2 separate regions of the Homo sapiens genome follow, and region 2 is linked to region 1. Evidence: fine-mapped expression QTL. A gene starts in region 1. The other region holds a variant in brackets. All regions are shown on one strand. Distances are between the middles of the regions. Region 1 holds the start of XRCC2 (X-ray repair cross complementing 2). Region 2 has its middle 36 kb from the start of XRCC2.

Region 1 (8,668 bases):
CTGTCTCCAGAAAATAAATAAATAAATAACAGACATATTCAGCTTTTACCAACTGTCTCACTAATGTATTTTTCTGGTTCAGAATCCAGTTCAGGATCACACATTATATTAATATATAGGTGTCATGCCTCTTTAGTCACCCTTAATCTGGAATAGTTCCTCAGTCTTTTGTTTGAGATGGAATCTCACTGTGTTGCACAGGGTGGAGTGCAGTGTCATAATCTCTGCTCACTGCAACCTCCATCTCCCAGGGTCAAGCGATTCTCCTGTCTCAGCCTGTGGAGTAGCTGGGATTACAGGCACCTGCCACCATGCCTGGCTAATGTTTGTATTTTTAGTAGAGACGGGGTTTCACCATGTTGGCCAGGCTGGTCTTGAACTCCTGACAACAGGTGATCCACCCATCTCAGTCTCTCAAAGTGCTGGTCTTACAGGCGGGAGCCACTGTGCCCAGCCACGTTTTTGTTTTCGTTTTTTTAATCTAGATTTTTAAAATAATACTGGTTGGTTATATTCTAGAATATAATGTACCTCAGTTTGGGTTTGTGTAATGTTTGTGCATGATTAGATTTGGGTTATGCATTTTCGGTGGGAATACCACAGAAAGGATGCTGTGTTCTTCCCAGTGCACTGTATTAGGAGGCACGTGATACCTATTTTTCTCATTACAGGTGATGTTAAGTTGGATCACTTGGTTAAGGTGATGTTTAATAGGTTTCTCCATGGTGCAGGGCATGGTGCCTCACACCTGTAACCCCAGCACTTTGGGAGGCTGAGGTGGGTGGATCACCTGAAGTCAGGAGTTCAAGACCAGTCTGGCCAACATGGTGAAATCCCGTCTCTACTAAAAATACAAAAAAATTAGCTGGGCGGCCGAGCACGGTGGCTCACGCCTGTAATTCCAGCACTTTGGGAGGCCAAGGCGGGCAGATCATGAGGTCAGGAATTCAAGACCAGCCTGGACAATATGGTGAAACTTGGTTGCTACTAAAAATACAAAAATTAGCCAGGCGTGGTGTTGCACGACTGTTGTCCCAGCTACTCGGGAGGCTGAGGTAAAAGAACCTCTTGAACCCGGGAGGTGGAGGTTGCATCGCGCCACTGCACTCCAGCCTGGGCGACAGAGCGAAACTCTGTCTCAATTTAAAAAAAAAAAAGTTTCTCCATGGCAGGGTCACTCTTTTCTTTGTAATTAACAAGTATCTTGTAGGGAGATACTTTAGGCTATAGTCTGTCTTTAATTATACTTTTATCCAGTAATTTTAGTATCAATTGATTACTCTTAATCTCCTCTTCCAAACTATTACTGTGGCAATTTGTTTTTCTTTTTTTCTTTTTTTTTTTTTTTTTAGACAGTCTCACTCTGTCACCAGGCTGGAGTGTAGTGGCGCCATAGGCATGAGCCACTGTGCCCGGCCTACTGTGGCAATTTTTAAACATTTTAATTTTAGGTTCAGGGGTACGTGTGCAGGTTTGTTATACAGGTAAACTCATGTCATGGGGGTTTGTTGTAGGAATTACTTCGTCACCCAGGTACTAAGCCTAGTACCCAGTAGTTATTTTTTCTGCTCCTCTCCCTCCTCCCACCCTCCAGTCTGAAGTAGGCCTCAGTGTGTGTTGTTCCTTTCTTTTCGTGCATGAGTTCTCATCATTTAGCTCCCAATTATAAGTGACAACATGTGGTATTTGGTTTTCTGTTCTTGCGTTTTTTTGCTAAGGATAGTGGTCTCCAGCTCCGTCCATGTTCCTGCAAAGGACATGATCTTGCTTTTGTTTTGTTTTTTTCTTTTTTGAGACAGAGTCTCACTCTGTTGTGCAGGCTGGAGTGCAATGGCATGATCTCAGCTCACTGCAACCTCCACCTCCCTGTTCAAGCAATTCTCCTGTCTCAGCCTCCCGAGTAGCTGGTATTACAGTCATGCACCACCACACCCGGTTAATTTCTATATTTTTAGTAGAGGCAGGATTTTGTCATGTTTGCCAGGCTAGTCTCAAACTCCTGACCTCAGGTGATCTACCAGCCTCAGCCTCCCAAAGTGCTGGGATTACAGGCGTAAGCCACTGATGATTTCTTTTTTAGGAGGTAAAACATCATGTGTTTCTAAAAGTTAGAGCTGGCCAGTCATGGTGGCTCATACCTGTAATCTTGGCACTTTGGGGATGGCGAGGTTGGTGGATCACCTGAGGTCATGAGTTCCAGACCAACCTGACCAACATGGTGAAACCCCATCTCTACCAAAAATACAATTAGCCAGGCGTGGTGGCAGGTGCCTGTAATCCCAGCTACTGAGGAGGCTGAGGCATGAGAATCACTTGAACCCAGAGACAGAGGTTGCAGTGAGCCAGGATTCTGCCATTGCACTCCAGCCTGGGTGACAGAACAAGACTCTGTCTCAGAAAAAAAAGAAAAAAAAAATTGGAGCTATCAAAAAAAGTTACACATAGGGAAGTGTCCCTCACCCCATCTCTTTTACCCTATTTTCATCCTCCATTTTTTCCAACCTATTTTTATCTACCCTCCGTAGATAAAGAATCCTCTTTGCTTCTCATGTATTCTTCCTGTGTTTCTTTTTACCCAAATGAGCAGAGACATGTGTATCTTTTTCTTTCCCCTCCCTTGTTACAAGAAAGCTAGCAAACTGTAGACACCCCTTCCTCTTTGCCTTTTTCACTTAACACTATATCCTGGAAATCATTCCTTACAGATGCATAGAGATCTTGGCCATTCTTTGTTGCAGCTGCATAGTGCTCCATTTTGTGGCAGTGCCGTATTGTTTTCAACCACTCTCCTATGTATAAACATTTAGGCCATTTCCAAGATTTTGCAATTACAAACCATGCTGCAATATGCTTTTTTTGCATACACGTTTTTGCAATGTTGGAAGTATGACTTCAAGCTAAATTCTTAGAAGTAGGATTGCTGAGTGAAAAAGTTAATAAATGCGTCATTTTGTTAGATAGTGCCAAAATCGGCCAGGTGCAGTGGCTCATGCCTGTAATCCCAGCACTTTAGGAGGCAGGAGGATCACTTGAGCCCAGGAGTTGTAAACCAGCCTAGGCAACATGGCGAAACCCCATCTCTATTAATTAAAAAAAAAAAAAAAAAGATATTGCCAAATTCCTTTCCAAAAAGACCGTATGTTTTCATGCCTACCAGCAGTTTGTGAGAGCGCTTCAAGTATCCTTTTAAACGAGAAGTGATGTTTCCGGAGCATTAAAACTGAAGTGATTTCAAAACCATGTTGCACTCACACGAACAGGTGTGCACTTAATGGACTAAACTAGTTCAGCTGACATGTCTTCTTCATTAGGAACAGTGTGGAGACTGAAAAACTAATTTAGCCTAGAGCAGCTATTTAATTGTAAAGTCTCCTTTCTCAAATATTGATTTACTATGTGAGGAAATATTTACTTTGTATAGAAGTGTGTGGAATTGGACGAGGGGGTTGACCTACACATGTGGTTTGGTATACACATATCCTCATTACAGAGGGTGTAATGAAGATATAGGTGGTTCAGCACCATAGGAAAGGGAAAAAAGAAAAAAAAAAGACGGTAGAGGTGGCCTCCCAAGCATCCACTCCCACTCCTCTTGTTAATGATTCACAATTTGTTGTTATTGTTGTCATTTACTGTTCTCCACACCTTTCCACAAGGCCTGTGTGCTTTGAAAAAATATGTCTCTACTCCGGATAGAAGTGGGGCACACAGGGCCAGGCGCGGTGGCTCACGCCTGTAATCCCAGCACTTTGGGAGGCCGAGGCAGGCAGATCACAAGGTCAGGAGTTCGAGATCAGCCTGGCCAATATGGTGAAACCCCATCTCTACTAAAAATACAAAAATTAGCCTGGCGTGGTGGCACGTGCCTGTAGTCCCAGATACTTGGGAGGCTGAGGCAGAAGAATCACTTGAACCCGGGAGGCAGAGGTTGCAGTGAGCCGAGATGGTACCACTGCACTCCAGCCTGGGCGAGAGTGCAATGAGACTCCGTCTCCAAAAAAAAAAAAAAAAAGAAAAAAAGAAAAGTAAGTGGGGCACACGATTCAGGCCTAAGCTAACCAGACCAACCTCATTCCTGATGGTTGTTAATGTTTCAGATACGGGCCCGCAGCCCTACGTAGAGAAGAGGCCAAGGTAGAAAACATGAATCTGAGGTAAAAAGAAATGAGGTACTTGTTTGCCTCATCAAGCCTCTCAATTAAACTAACCTTGAAGCCTGTCTTACCTTTGGACTTCTAGTGATGTCACCCGGTAAAGCCCATTTGTTTCAGGACGTAAGAGTTGGGTTTTCTGTGACTTGGAACCAAAACCATTCCAATTTACAAAATGAGCAACTTTAATATTACCCATGAGAAATACTTCATTGGTATATGCTCTTTCCTAGCGTTTTTGAAAACTAAACTAGGTGGGTGAAAAGTATATCTTTGCATGAAACTTTTTCATTCCAGAAAACATTTTGTCATCTTGATAATAATGGCCAATGCTACTATATCCAAATTTTTGTCTTTTTTTTTTTTTGAGACAGAGTCTCGCTCTGCCGCTCAGGTGTGATGGCGCGATCTCGGCTCACTGCAACCTCTGCCTCCCTGGTTCAAGCGATTCTCCTGCCTCAGCCTCCCTGAGTAGCTGGGATTACAGGCATGCGCCACCACACCTGGCTAATTTTTGTATTTTTACTGTAGACGGGGTTTCACCATTTTGGCCAGGCTGGTCTCGAACTCCCGACTTCCAGTGATCCTCCTGCCTACCTCAAAAAGCAACTTGATAAATCCACAGGCTCGGTATATTTTAAAAATTCTTTTAAATACAGTATACTTTTCTCTTTTTTTCCAGAATTAACCATGAATCGCACACACAGCCAGAGGCTTTTAACCCGAGAACGGACAAAGGGGCCTGCTTGTGCAATACAATTATTTTTAATGGTTAAACAAATTAATACATAAGACCAGCTTTACCTAATATAATAATAACGAACCAAAGTTTACAACAGACAAGAAAAGCACCAGCTGTCCCCGCCACCCCGGAGCGATCTCCAAGGGGACGCGGGAGAGCGCCGCGGGGGACGCGGAAGTCTGACGTCACAGGAACTGGGGGCGGGGCGGGGAGGCCCGCACACCCTATTGCGCATGCTCCCGCCTCCCCGGCCGCGGCCTGGCGCAGTGCGCACGCGCGCGGGTGGGCGGGTTTGACTGGCCGTAGAGTCTGCGCAGTTGGTGAATGGCGTTGGTGGCGGGAAAGTTGAGTCTCTCCTGCGCCGAGCCTTCGGGGCGATGTGTAGTGCCTTCCATAGGGCTGAGTCTGGGACCGAGGTGAGAGCCGCCGGGTTGGGAGTGAGGGAGATGGGAACAAGGCCGCCGGTGGGCGAGGGGAGCCGAGGGAACCCGGGGGATTGGGAGGCTTGGGGCGGCGCGGCCTGGCCGGGCTGGGACCGGCCTCTCGGCCTAGACGCCCGCGATGCTGGCACCCTCTGCCACCTCTCACCTGGGCCCCAGGGGTCCGCCCCTGGGCAGCCTGGAGTCCTCCGAGGTGGGAGGACCGGGCGGAGGTGGAGGAAGTCTTTCTTTGGAAGACTTGCTGCCTGCCCAGATCGATATAACATACGAGGTCTCTCCTCCCAAGAGTTATGGTCTAAAAACCCCTCACAAATTAACTACCGTTGGAAATGTCAAGCTATGCAAGAAAAGCTAGAAAAGGGGAGGGGTCGCCCGTTGGAGCATTTGGAGCTTTTCTGGAACAGGTGGTGTTTGCGGAGGTTGCCTCACCTCCCTGTAGCCCACGTGTCTCTGCTTAGGGCAGCTGGCCCTCGCCACCCCCTAGTATTCGTTTCCAGCCCAGGTAGCTCCAGAGCCACACAAGCCGGTGGATGCCCCTCAAGAATTGAACCAAGTGTCCAGCACTTACTGTGTGTCAACTACGTGTTAAGGGATAGGAGTAAGCAACAAAAGACATAACTTCTGCCATTAAAGAACTAGTAAGGGAGGCTGCTGTAAGAATTACAGTATTGCACAAAAGTTTGTTGTCCATTAGAGGGGCGGGCATCATGGAAGATGCAGGAGGAGATGACTGAAGTTTCAAGGACCATTTGAAATGGTTTGGCAAGGAGAGGATGACATTCAGAGCGGAGACAGTCGGGAGTACATGGATTCTGAATTAAGCAAGAGCATGGCTAATTTAGATAACTGCAAGTATTTCTGTAAAATTGGAACAAAGGGAGTGAGGGACAATAGGTTGGGAAGTAAGCGCTGAGCAGTGGGCAGGGTATGAAGGATCTTTTATGCAGATGAGAGAGGAAGCAATCTCAAAAGAGTCAGCAAACATTTTTGTGGAGGGCCATGTGGTAAATATTTAGGCTTTGCAGGCCATGCCGTTTCTGTCACAGCCACTCAACTCTGCTGTTCTAATGGGAAGGCAGTCATAGATAAATAAAGGCACATGGCAGCGTTCCAATAAAGCTTTGTTTTTTGGATTTAGCCTGCTGGCCATAGTTTGATAATCCCTGTTCCTAAAGAGTAGAACCACTGCTTAGTATAAGAACGGCTACAGTTATAAACCATAGATATATATATATTTAAAAATATATTTATATATAATATATATTTAAAAATATATTTATATATAATATATATTTAAAAATATATTATATAAATATATATTTAAAAATATATTTATAATATAGATTATATAGAAAGTATATAATACATATAAACATATTTTTTATATATAAATATATATTTTTTTGAGATGAACTCTCGCTCTGTTGCCCAGGCTGGAGTGCAATGGTGCCATCTCAGCTCACTGCAACTTCCGCCTCCCGGGTTCAAGCGATTGTCCTGCCTCAGCCTCCCAAGTAGCTGGGATTACAGGCACACGCCACCACACCCAGCTAACTTTTGTATTTTTAGTAGAGACAGGGTTTCGCCGTGTTGGCGAGGCTAGTTTCGAACTCCTGACCTCAGGTGATCCGCCTCAGCCTCCCAGAGTGCTGGGATTACAGGTGTGAGCCACTGCGCCCGGCCAAAACCTTATATTTAAATGATTATTTGAAACCCAGGTTAAGGTCCGATGATTTTTGCAATCAGAACAAGCCTTGTATCCAAAAAATGAGAGTCTAGCACAGTTAAGTCATGGAACAAAGAATTTAACATCATATCCTTTGCCTGCCTTGTCTGTGTGGCAATCCTAAGCCTAGCTCATACTACTCTGGAGTGGAGTGGGGTGGAATGGTGAATAGGAAGCTAGGCAATTGGCGCTGCTCTATTTTCCTTTTTATTAACAAAACCAGTTAAGCCAGTCTCTTTCCCTTTAAGTGTCTTGGGAACTATGTGGCCACTGCCAAATTTGTTTGAACTCTAGCTTCTTTGCACATTCATCTACTTTGAATTTACTTGGAGGGATTGTGTTGAGGAATATATCTGAAGCCATAAGCTAACCCAAGAAACTGAAATAAACTACTTTAAATTTTTGGTTTTTTTTGAGACAAGAGTCTCACTCTGTCGCCCAGGCTGGAGTGCAGTGGCGCGATCTTGGCTCACTGTAACCTCTGCCTCCCGGGTTCCAGCAATTCTCCTGCCTCAGCCTCCCGAGTAGCTGGGACTACAGGTGCACGCCACCATGCCCGGCTAATTTATTTTTTATTTTTATTTTTTAGCAGAGACCGGGTTTCACTATGTTGGCCAGGCTGGTCTTAAACTCCTGACCTCATGATCCGCCTGCCTAAGCCTCCCAAAGTGCTGGGATTACAGGCATGAGCCACCACGCCTGGCCTGCTTTAAAATTCACTAGAATTAGAACCTAATAAAATAGTTAATCTTTCTTGTGAGTATCAAGGAAAAGACATTTCATATGGGGGTCTTCAAGAAAATAAAGTTGTAAGAATATTTTTTTAGGCTGGGTGCAGTGGCTCATGCCCGTAATCCCAACACTTTGGGAGGTTGAGGTGGGCAGATCACCTGAGGTCAGGAGTTAGAGAGAAACCCTGTCTCTACTAAAAATAAAAAAAATTAGCTGGGTGTGGTGGTGGGCGCCTGTAATCCCAGCTACTTGGGAGGGTGAAGGAAGAGAACTGCTTGAACCCGGGAGGCGGGGGTTTCAGTGAGCCGACATCACGCCACTGCACTCCAGCCTGGGTGACAGAGCAAAACTCTGTCTCAAAAAAAAGAATATATATTTTTTTAGCAGATTCTAGGGATGAAGTTTATGGTAAGCCAGGTGGAGAGTGGAAAACATATGTGCCCTTGATTTAAAAAAGACAAGCATTTGACTACAGTTTACAATAGAACAATCCATTTTTCCCTTTGCACAGTAGCAATAGGATTTTTACTTTTATATCTCACTGAGATTGTGAGAAAAGATCCAGTGATTTGGGCAGTATTTTGGTATCATCCACCAAATGGCTTCATTTGAATACAGTTGTTAAATAATGGTGTACTTTGCATTTTTTCAAGAATGCTAATATGCCTTGAATTTTAAAATAATTGGTAAATAAAAAATTGGAAGTGTCTGTCCAGTTTTGGTTGCTATGCACAGCATACCATGTTTTTTTTCTTTAAAAAACTAACTCCATTATATTTATTATTAAAGCAGTTCATGTACATGGCAGAAAATTCCAATAGCACTGAAGTGAAAAGTAGGAAATGTCTCCACTCCCATTATCATTACCCAAGGATAG
Region 2 (8,668 bases), 37 kb after region 1:
TAAGAGGTGAAAGACAAGAGGGGGCAGAATGAGGCAGGGAAAACCTTAGGGCCTGACACCGGTGGAAGGAAGGAGGCAGGAAGAATTGGGAGGAAGAACTTCAGACTGACAGCACAGCTCAAAGAAAGTCTTGGCCTGTCCACCAGGGAACTCCTATGCAAAGATTGTCTGGAGGACACCCTCACTGGGCAGAAGTATTCATGAGGAGCACATGACCTCAGCTCATATACTGTGGCAGAGCAAAAGGCACTTTAGCTGGACGCTGTCAGATAACTCACTTTCAAAGGGAGATCCGAGCTAAGTGTTCTTTCTTCTCTCTCTCTCTCTCTCTTTCTTTCTTCCAGAGGCTTGCTTCTTCGCCCAGGCTGGAGTGCAATGGCACGATCTCAGCTCACTGCAACCTCTGCCTCCTGGGTTCAAGCAATTCTCCTGCCTCAGCCTCCCGAGTAGCTGCGATTACAGACGCATGCCAGCACGCCCGGCTAATTTTTGTATTTTTACTAGAGACGGGGTTTCACCATGTTAGCCAGGATGGTCTTGAACTCCTGACCACAAGTGATCTGCCTGCCTCGGCCTCCCAAAGTGCTGGGATTACAGGTGTGAGCCATTGCACCCAGCCTGGCTGCTAAGTGTTCTTAAAGGAGGCTGATGTAGGGGAACTTACCCTATTCGATGTAAGGATATGTAGTTAAGGCCAGGCATGGTGGCTCAGGCCTGTAATCCCAGCACTTTGGGATGCCAAGGTGGGCGGATCACGAGGTCAAGAGATCAAGACCATTCTGGCCAACATAGTGAAACCCCCGTCTCTACTAAAAATACAAAAATTAGCTGGGCATGGTGGCGCACGCCTGTAGTCCCAGCTACTACGGAGGCTGAGGCAGGAGAATTGCTTGAACCCGGGAGGCGGAAGTTGCACTAAGCCGAGATCACACCACTGCACTCCAGCCTGGGCGACAGAGCAAGACTCCGTCTCAAAAAAAAAAAAAAATTGTCGCTAAAGTGAGAGTATGCTATTGGTAAAAGGATACACAAGTAGAACAGAATATAGAGCTTCAGAACAAACCCACACGTATGGACTTTAGCATATTTCAGAAGCAGCAAATCATTGTGGAAAGGATGGACTATTCAAATCCTTGTAACAAGGATGGATGATACATGATGGAAAAAGATGCAACTGAAAACTGTATTACATCAGTACTTATAATTTTTACTCATCAAAGATTCCATCAACAAAGCAAAAAGAGAAGCTACAAACAGAGTATATTTGCAACCCATGCGAACAACACGTTTAATATTAAAACCAAAATGTAGTGTGTATACTCATAAGTGTGTATATATGTGCACACAAATATGTACGTATACATAAATCAAGACAAAATAAGTAGAAAAATGGGCAAAGGATATTCAGGGGCATTTCACAGAAAAGAAACAGGACTGGTCAAAAAACATGAAATGATGTTCAATCTCATTGGTAATTGCAAATACAAATTAAGAGTTCAGTAAGGTGTCATTTCACGCACACTTGGATGACAGAAATTTAAAGGCTGACATTACCGAGTCGCGAAGAAGATGTGCAACAAATAATGCCAACTCTGTGCTGCTGGCAAAGTCAAACCAAAGAAGTGCAAGCACCTGGAAAACGAACTTGGCATTATTTTTCTTTCTTTTTTTTTTTCTTTTGAGACAGAGTCTCGCTCTGACGCCAGGCTGGAGTGCAGTGGCGTGATCTCGGCTCACCGCAACCTCCGCCTCCCGGGTTCAAGCGATTTTCCTGCCTCAGCCTCCTGAGTAACTGGGATTACAGGCACCTGCCACCACACCCAGCAAATTTTTGTATTTTTAGTAGAGATGGGGTTTCACCATGTTGGCCAGGATGGTCTCGATCTCTTGACCTTGTAATCCGCCTGCCTCGACCTCCCAAAGTGCTGGGATTACAGGCATGAGCCACCACGCCTGGTTTGGCATTATTTTTCAAAGTTAAATACACATAATACCCTTCAACGTGGCATATATCCTTGAGAGATTCTTGCTCATGTGTGTCAGGAAAGATGTATAAATATATTTATATTAGCATTATTCATAACAACAAAAGCCAGAATCAACTCAAACATCCATTCACAACAGAATGGATAAACAAATGGTGGCATATTCATACAAGGAAGCACCCGACAGCATTAAAAATGAATGCACTACTGTCGGATGCATAAACAGGAAATAAATCATACAAACGTAATCCCGAATTTTCTCTTTTTTTTTTTTTTTTTTTTACTTTTTCTTTTTTTTCAGAGGCTAAGGAAGGGGTGGGGTTGGGCAGGGAGAGGAAGGGACTGAGGGTGGAGTCTGCTTTTTCTTAAAGAACATTACAAAGGAATACCTTCAATATAATACCTTTTAAAATAATACCTTCGGCCAGGCACCGTGGCTCATGCCTGTAATCCCAGCACTTTGGGAGGCCAAGGTGGGTGGATTGCCTGAGGTCACGAGTTTGAGACCAGCCTGACCAATATGGTGAAACTCCATCTCTAGTAAAAATACAAAATTAGGTGGGCATGGTGGTGCATACCTGTAATCCCAGCTACTCGGGAGGCTGAGGCAGGAGAATAACTTGAACCTGGAAGGCAGAGGTTGCAGTGAGCTGAGATCGCGCCACCACACTCCAGCCTTGGGGACAAGAGCAAGACTTCATCTCAAAAAAAAAAAAAAAAAAAGACATAACTCACATACTATACGATTTGCTCTATTAAAGTATACTATTTGGTGGTTTTAGTCAACTCCAAGTTCTGCGACCATTTAATTTTAGAACATTGTCATCACCCCAGAAAGAAAAGAAACCCCATACCACTTAGTAGTCATTCCTCATGCCCTTCTCTTCCCCAGCTCCTGGTAATATCCTAAACTGTTTTCTGTCTGCATTTGCCTGCTATGGACATTTCAAATACATACAATCATATACTCTGTGGTCCGAGTCTTCTTTCACTTAGTATGTTTTCAAGATTCATCCATGTCATAATATATGTCAATAGTTTATTCCTTTTTTTTTTTTTTTTTTTTTTTTTTGAGACAGGGTCTCACTCTGTCACCCAGGCTGAAGTGCAATGGTGCTATCTCAGCTCACCACAACCTCCGCCTCCTGGGCTTAAGCAATTCTCCTGCCTCTCGGCCTCCTGAGTAGCTGGAAATTACAGGCATGTGCCTCCACACCTAGCTAATTTTTGTATTTTTTGCAGAGATGGGGTTTTGCCACGTTACGGAGGCTGGTCTTGAACTCCTGGGCTCAAGTGATCCACACACCTCAGCCTTCCAAAGTGCTGGGATTACAGGAGTGAGTCACCGCACCCAGCCAGTTTAGTCCTTATAGCTGTATAATATTCCATTGCACAAATATGACACTTTTTAAAAATCCAACGTCAATGGATGGATATTTGGATTGTCTCCAATTTGGGGCTATTTTGATTAATGCTGCAATGAATATCAATTTACAAGTCTTCGTGTGGAGATGCCTTTTAAAATAAGGTTCAAAAACAAAACTAAACAATATATGCTAAAATTAGAAGAAAAGCAGGGGACCAGCAGCGTGCTATTTGGGAATGTTCCAGTCAGTTCATCGAGTTCTTTTTTTAATATTCCTCATAACTCATCACATATTACAATAATCATAACATACACACACATACAAATAGGGTGTTCTGGCCTCCACATTTTGTAAAAAGCTTCATGGTTGGATGTGGGAGGGAAAGTAGACTTTGGTTTCTTAGACGCGTCCACCTTCTCCCTTTCGGTCCCACCGCACTTCCGCTTCC[A/G]AGTACGCCCAGTTCTCTGCTTTGCTTTCACAGCATCTGCTCTGTTATGTCCACAGACCTACCCAACTTTACCAGCTTTAACTATTGGAATGTTTCAGCCAGGGTCGGTGGTTCACGCCTGTAATCCCAGTACTTTGGTCAGCAGTTTGAGACCAGCCTGGCCAATATAGTGAAACCCCGTCTCTACTACAAATACAAAAAATTAGCCGGGCGTGGTAGTGGACACCTGTAATCCCAGCTACTCAGGAGGCTGAGGCAGGAGAATCGCTTGAACCCAGGAGAAAGAGGTTGCGGTGAGCTGAGCTTGTGCCACTGCACTCCAGCTGGGGCAACATGCGAGACTCTGTCTCAGAATAAATAAATAAATAAATATTGGAATGTTTCAACAAAATACAGAAAATAAACAATTTTTAAAAATTTTTTTAATTGGAATGAGGGAAACTCTGAGCCGATGAGCCTATTCTGGTTCTGGAAACCACCCTATTTTAAAAAGAGGGGGAATTGCTATTGTCTTCCCTCCTTTTTTCTTTTTTTTTGTCTTTATGGGTTTATGCTTTTTTCCCCTTTCCTGTGATTTTAGTAGGTTTCAGGAGGAATTACTGGTTAACAAGCATGTTCAACTGCAGTGTTTATCCAGAAGTTTTATCATTTAAGCTGACTGCATTTTCTATTCCTTGTAGTTAAAATCATCTTGATTTGACGGAATTGCAATGGTATTGACCCACAGAAATATTTTATGATTTTTAATGAGTACATCGTATTTCCTCTTATGGAATAAATATGTAATTATTTAATCACTCTTGAAATATTTGAGTGGCTTTCAATTTGTTTGTTTTTTGAAAATAGAATTATAGAAGTAAAAAAATTTAAAAAGTTTACAAGAATTATACAATTTTTCTGCAATTTTTTAATGTTATCGAACATCCCAAACTGGGCACAGTGGCTCACGCCTGTAATCCTAGCACTTTGGGAGGCCAAGGCAGGAGGATGCTTGAGTCCAGGAGTTCAAGACCAGCCTGAGCAATATAGTGAGACCCCCATCTCTACAAAAAAATTATTTATTTATTTATTTATTTATTTATTTATTTATTTTTGAAATAGAGTCTCGCTCTGTCACCCAGGCTGGAGTGCAGTGGCCCGATCTCAGCTCACTGCAACCTCTGCCTCCCAGGTTCAAGAGATTCTCCTGCCTTAGCCTCCTGAGTAGCTGGGACTACAGGCACAAGCCGCCACGCCCAGCTAATTTCTGTATTTTTAGTAGAGGTGGGGTTTCACTATGTTGGCCAGGCTGGTCTCCAACTCCTGACCTCCGGTGATCCACCCACCTTGGCCTCCCAAAGTGCTGGAATCACAGGCATGAGCCACTGCGCCTGGCCTCTACAAAAATTTAAAAATTACCCAGGTATGGTGGTGCATGCCTGTGGTCCCAGCTACTCGGGAGGCTCAGAGGGGAGGATCGCTTGAGCCTGGGAAGTCAAGACTGCAGGGAGTCATGATCAGGCTGCTGCACTCAAGCCTGGGTAACAGAGTGAGATCTTGTCTGATTAAAAAAAAAAAAAAAAAAATCAGCTGGGCGCAGTGGCTCACGCCTGTAATCCCAGCACTTTGGGAGGCCAAGGCAGGCGGATCACTTGAGGTCAGGAGTTCGAGACCAGCCTGGCTGACATGGTGAAACCCTGACTCTACTGACAATACAAAAATTAGCTGGGGATGGTGGTACATGCCTGTAATTCCAGATACTTGGGAGATTGAGGCACAAGAATCACTTGAACCCAGGGAGGCCGCAATGAGCTGAGATGGCACCACTGCACTCCAGCTTGGGTGACAGAGTGAGACTCTGTCTCAAAAAAAAAAAAATTTGCAAGAATATTTATATCAACTTATGCTCCTACCCTCAGAGGAGGAGAGTATCAGTATTTTCACACTCATAACAGCAGGCAGTACTTATATTGTCTTCAAGCTTTATTTTCTGATTATATTCATTTGAAAAAAATTTGGAAAAATAAAATAAAAAGCCGTGATCTCACCATCCAAAGATCTCCACCATTATCATTTGGAGTGTATCATTCCAGATGAGTCTCTATACATTGTTCTTTTTTTTTTTTTTAGAGATAGGGTCTCAGTCTGTCACCCAGGCTGGAGTGCAATGGCGCAATCTTGGCTCAAGTGTTCCTCCCACCTCAGCTTCCCGAGCAGCCGTGACTGCAGGCACACACTACCACACCTGGCTAATTTTTTAAATTTTTTTGTAGAGAGAGAGTCTCGCTTTTTGCCCAGGCTGGTCTCAAAATCCTGACCTCAAGTCATCTTCCCACCTCGGCCTCCCAAAGTGCTGGATTACAGGTGTGAGCCACTGCATGTGGCCCACATTGTCCTTGAGGGAGTGTTTTGGCTTTTTGTTGTTTTTTCTTTGCTGGACATACTGTTCTTTATTTGCTTTGTTCACTTAACAATGGGTTTTGGACATCTTTCCATATCAATATATCGATCCAATCATTTTCAAAGCTCTGTACATCATACTTTGCTTAACCCACTCCTGTTGATGGGCATTTCAATTGTTTATATTTTTTCCTAAATCCTTACAGACACAGCTTGGCAGTTACCCAATTATTTCCTTTAGATAAATAAAGAGATATACTTCTTGGTTAAAGGATGTTTACTTTTTTGAGTTTTCAACACGTTAATACGTACCACTAAAGGTAGAAAAAAGTGAGGCCAATGATAAACAGGTCTCGGGCAGAATCATTTGATCTGCAAAACTCAATTCTTGGACTTTTGATTTATATGAGGTAATGAATTTACATTTTGCCTATTCTGGCAAAATCTGACATTTGTAATTTCAAATTCTTTCTAAAGTGAGACAGTCGCTTGACTATACCTATATTAGTATTTCAGTAACATAAGGCTCAGATTTCAGCTGTGATGGGAACTGCAAAATGGTATGATTCATGTGAGTGCTAACAAATCATTCAAAATTTAGGAAGTTTGCATCTGTTTTATATAGATATATCTAAATTATGAATATGGGTTAATATTTGGAGTATTCTTAGCCTAATGTATTATATTATATTGCATCTGAAGGCTTGAATTGACACGAATTAACCTATACATCTTTAAATATTTGCAAAATTATATTTTATATGAGCCAGTAATAAATGACCATATTACAATTCAGAAGCTGAGAAGTGTAGTGAGGGTTGCCATGGGAACCTTAATGTGATATTCCCTTGCTTTCATTTAAATTTCATTTTTAATATTGCATTAACATTTTTGCATTTAATGGATAGATATTTGAATTAATATTGAAGTGCTCTTTCTAATATAAATAAAATATAAGAAATGAAAATGTGATTTTTCTTCCAATGAACAAATGAACATATAATCCAAGATCTTGTAGAAATAACAGCACTTGAGTTTTAAATTATTGGATTCCATTCATTTATTTTGAAGTTTCTTAAAGGATCTTTTTTAAAGATTCAGAAATATTTATGGATAGTCATATAATTCATGCCTTTAACATTTCAAATATGATTCAGAATTTCCTGAAAGCTTTTTGGGGATAATTTACTGTGCCGAAGTTGATTCTTCTGTATTTCTGACTGACTGACCTCTCACGTCATTTCTACCTCTCCAAGCTCACATTGGGGTAATGATGATTTATAGGGTGATACGCTTAATCTTACTTAAAACAAAATACAGATTACCAAATACCGGTTTGTCTATTTAAATCTTCTATATAAAAATCTAACTTATGCCAGAGATAAATTATAGGGTATTACTTATGGATTCTTGGCTATAAAAAGTATTCATACATAAGGGTATATGTGAATAGTGCACTGAAAATCAAAATAAATGGCTACAATGTATGGACAACAGAACCTGTGACTGCAAGCAGCTGTTGGGTGTCGGGAGCCTTGAGGGCTTGCTGATGTGGCGTAACCCACCGGACGTGTGACTGTGTGTGAGCTGCTTAATCTCATGGATAAAACAAAGAGTCTGAATTAGGATCACTAGCTTCTTTTCTACTAACGTAGTCGCTAAAAGAAATTTGGAAAATTATGTATCCCCTTACATGTTTTGACTTAACATTCAAACTTTCATTTATAAGTATTTAATTTATGGCATATTCACATTTTAAAATAAAACATTTATTTAAAATATCCACTAAAATCTACATATCACAGCAGTTTGCTACCCACCATACATTTTTTTGTTTTGTTTTGTTTTTTGAGATGGAGTCTCACTCTGTCGCCCAGGCTGGAGTGCAGTGGGGTGATCTCGGCTCACTGCAACCTCTACCTCCCAGGATCAAGTGATTCTCCTGCCTCAGCCTCCCAAGTAGCTGGAACTACAGGCATGCATCACCACGTCCAGCTAATTTTTGTGTTTTTTGGTAGAGATGGGGTTTCACCATGTTGCCCAGGCTGGTCTCAAACTCCTGACCTCAGCTGATCTGCCCACCTTGGCCTCCCAAAGTGCTGGGATTACAGGCATGAGCTACCGCACCCGGCCACACCATACATTTTCTAAAATACAAAAATAAAGCTCCATGATTCTACCTGTGGGAGGTACCTGGAGTAGCCATGTTCATAGAGACAGGAAGCAGAAGGGTGGGTGCAGGGGCTGGGGATGGTGCTGGAAACTGTTTGCAAATGATGTGACTATATTTCACACACTGAGCTGTACAGGTCTAAGCGGTGAATGTGGTAAATATTAATGTATTTTATCACAATGTTTTCACAATTAAAAAGTAATTTTAAAAAGTAATGCTTGTACTTGTCAGAATTTTTACATCACTCCTAGTTTCATTAATTTCTATTCCATTCCTATTCCCCTACAGAATTTTAATCTGATATAATTATGCCTTT

The links. PIP is the estimated chance that this variant, and not a neighbour inherited with it, causes the effect.
Region 2: its variant is fine-mapped to the expression of XRCC2 in whole blood (INTERVAL, PIP above 0.99).

Annotation. Positions count from the first base shown.
Region 1 is chr7:152,672,682-152,681,349 of GRCh38, reverse strand. It overlaps XRCC2 (X-ray repair cross complementing 2), which reads left to right and starts at 5,209. Exons shown (of 3, transcript NM_005431.2): 1 at 5,209-5,309. The coding sequence starts at 5,271. RefSeq lists silencers at 4,963-5,432, 5,733-5,822 and an enhancer at 4,888-5,732.
Region 2 is chr7:152,635,694-152,644,361 of GRCh38, reverse strand. No RefSeq gene overlaps it. Among named protein-coding and RNA genes, the nearest start is that of XRCC2, 36 kb to the left of the region's middle. The variant A/G (reference allele first, on the strand shown) is at 3,801.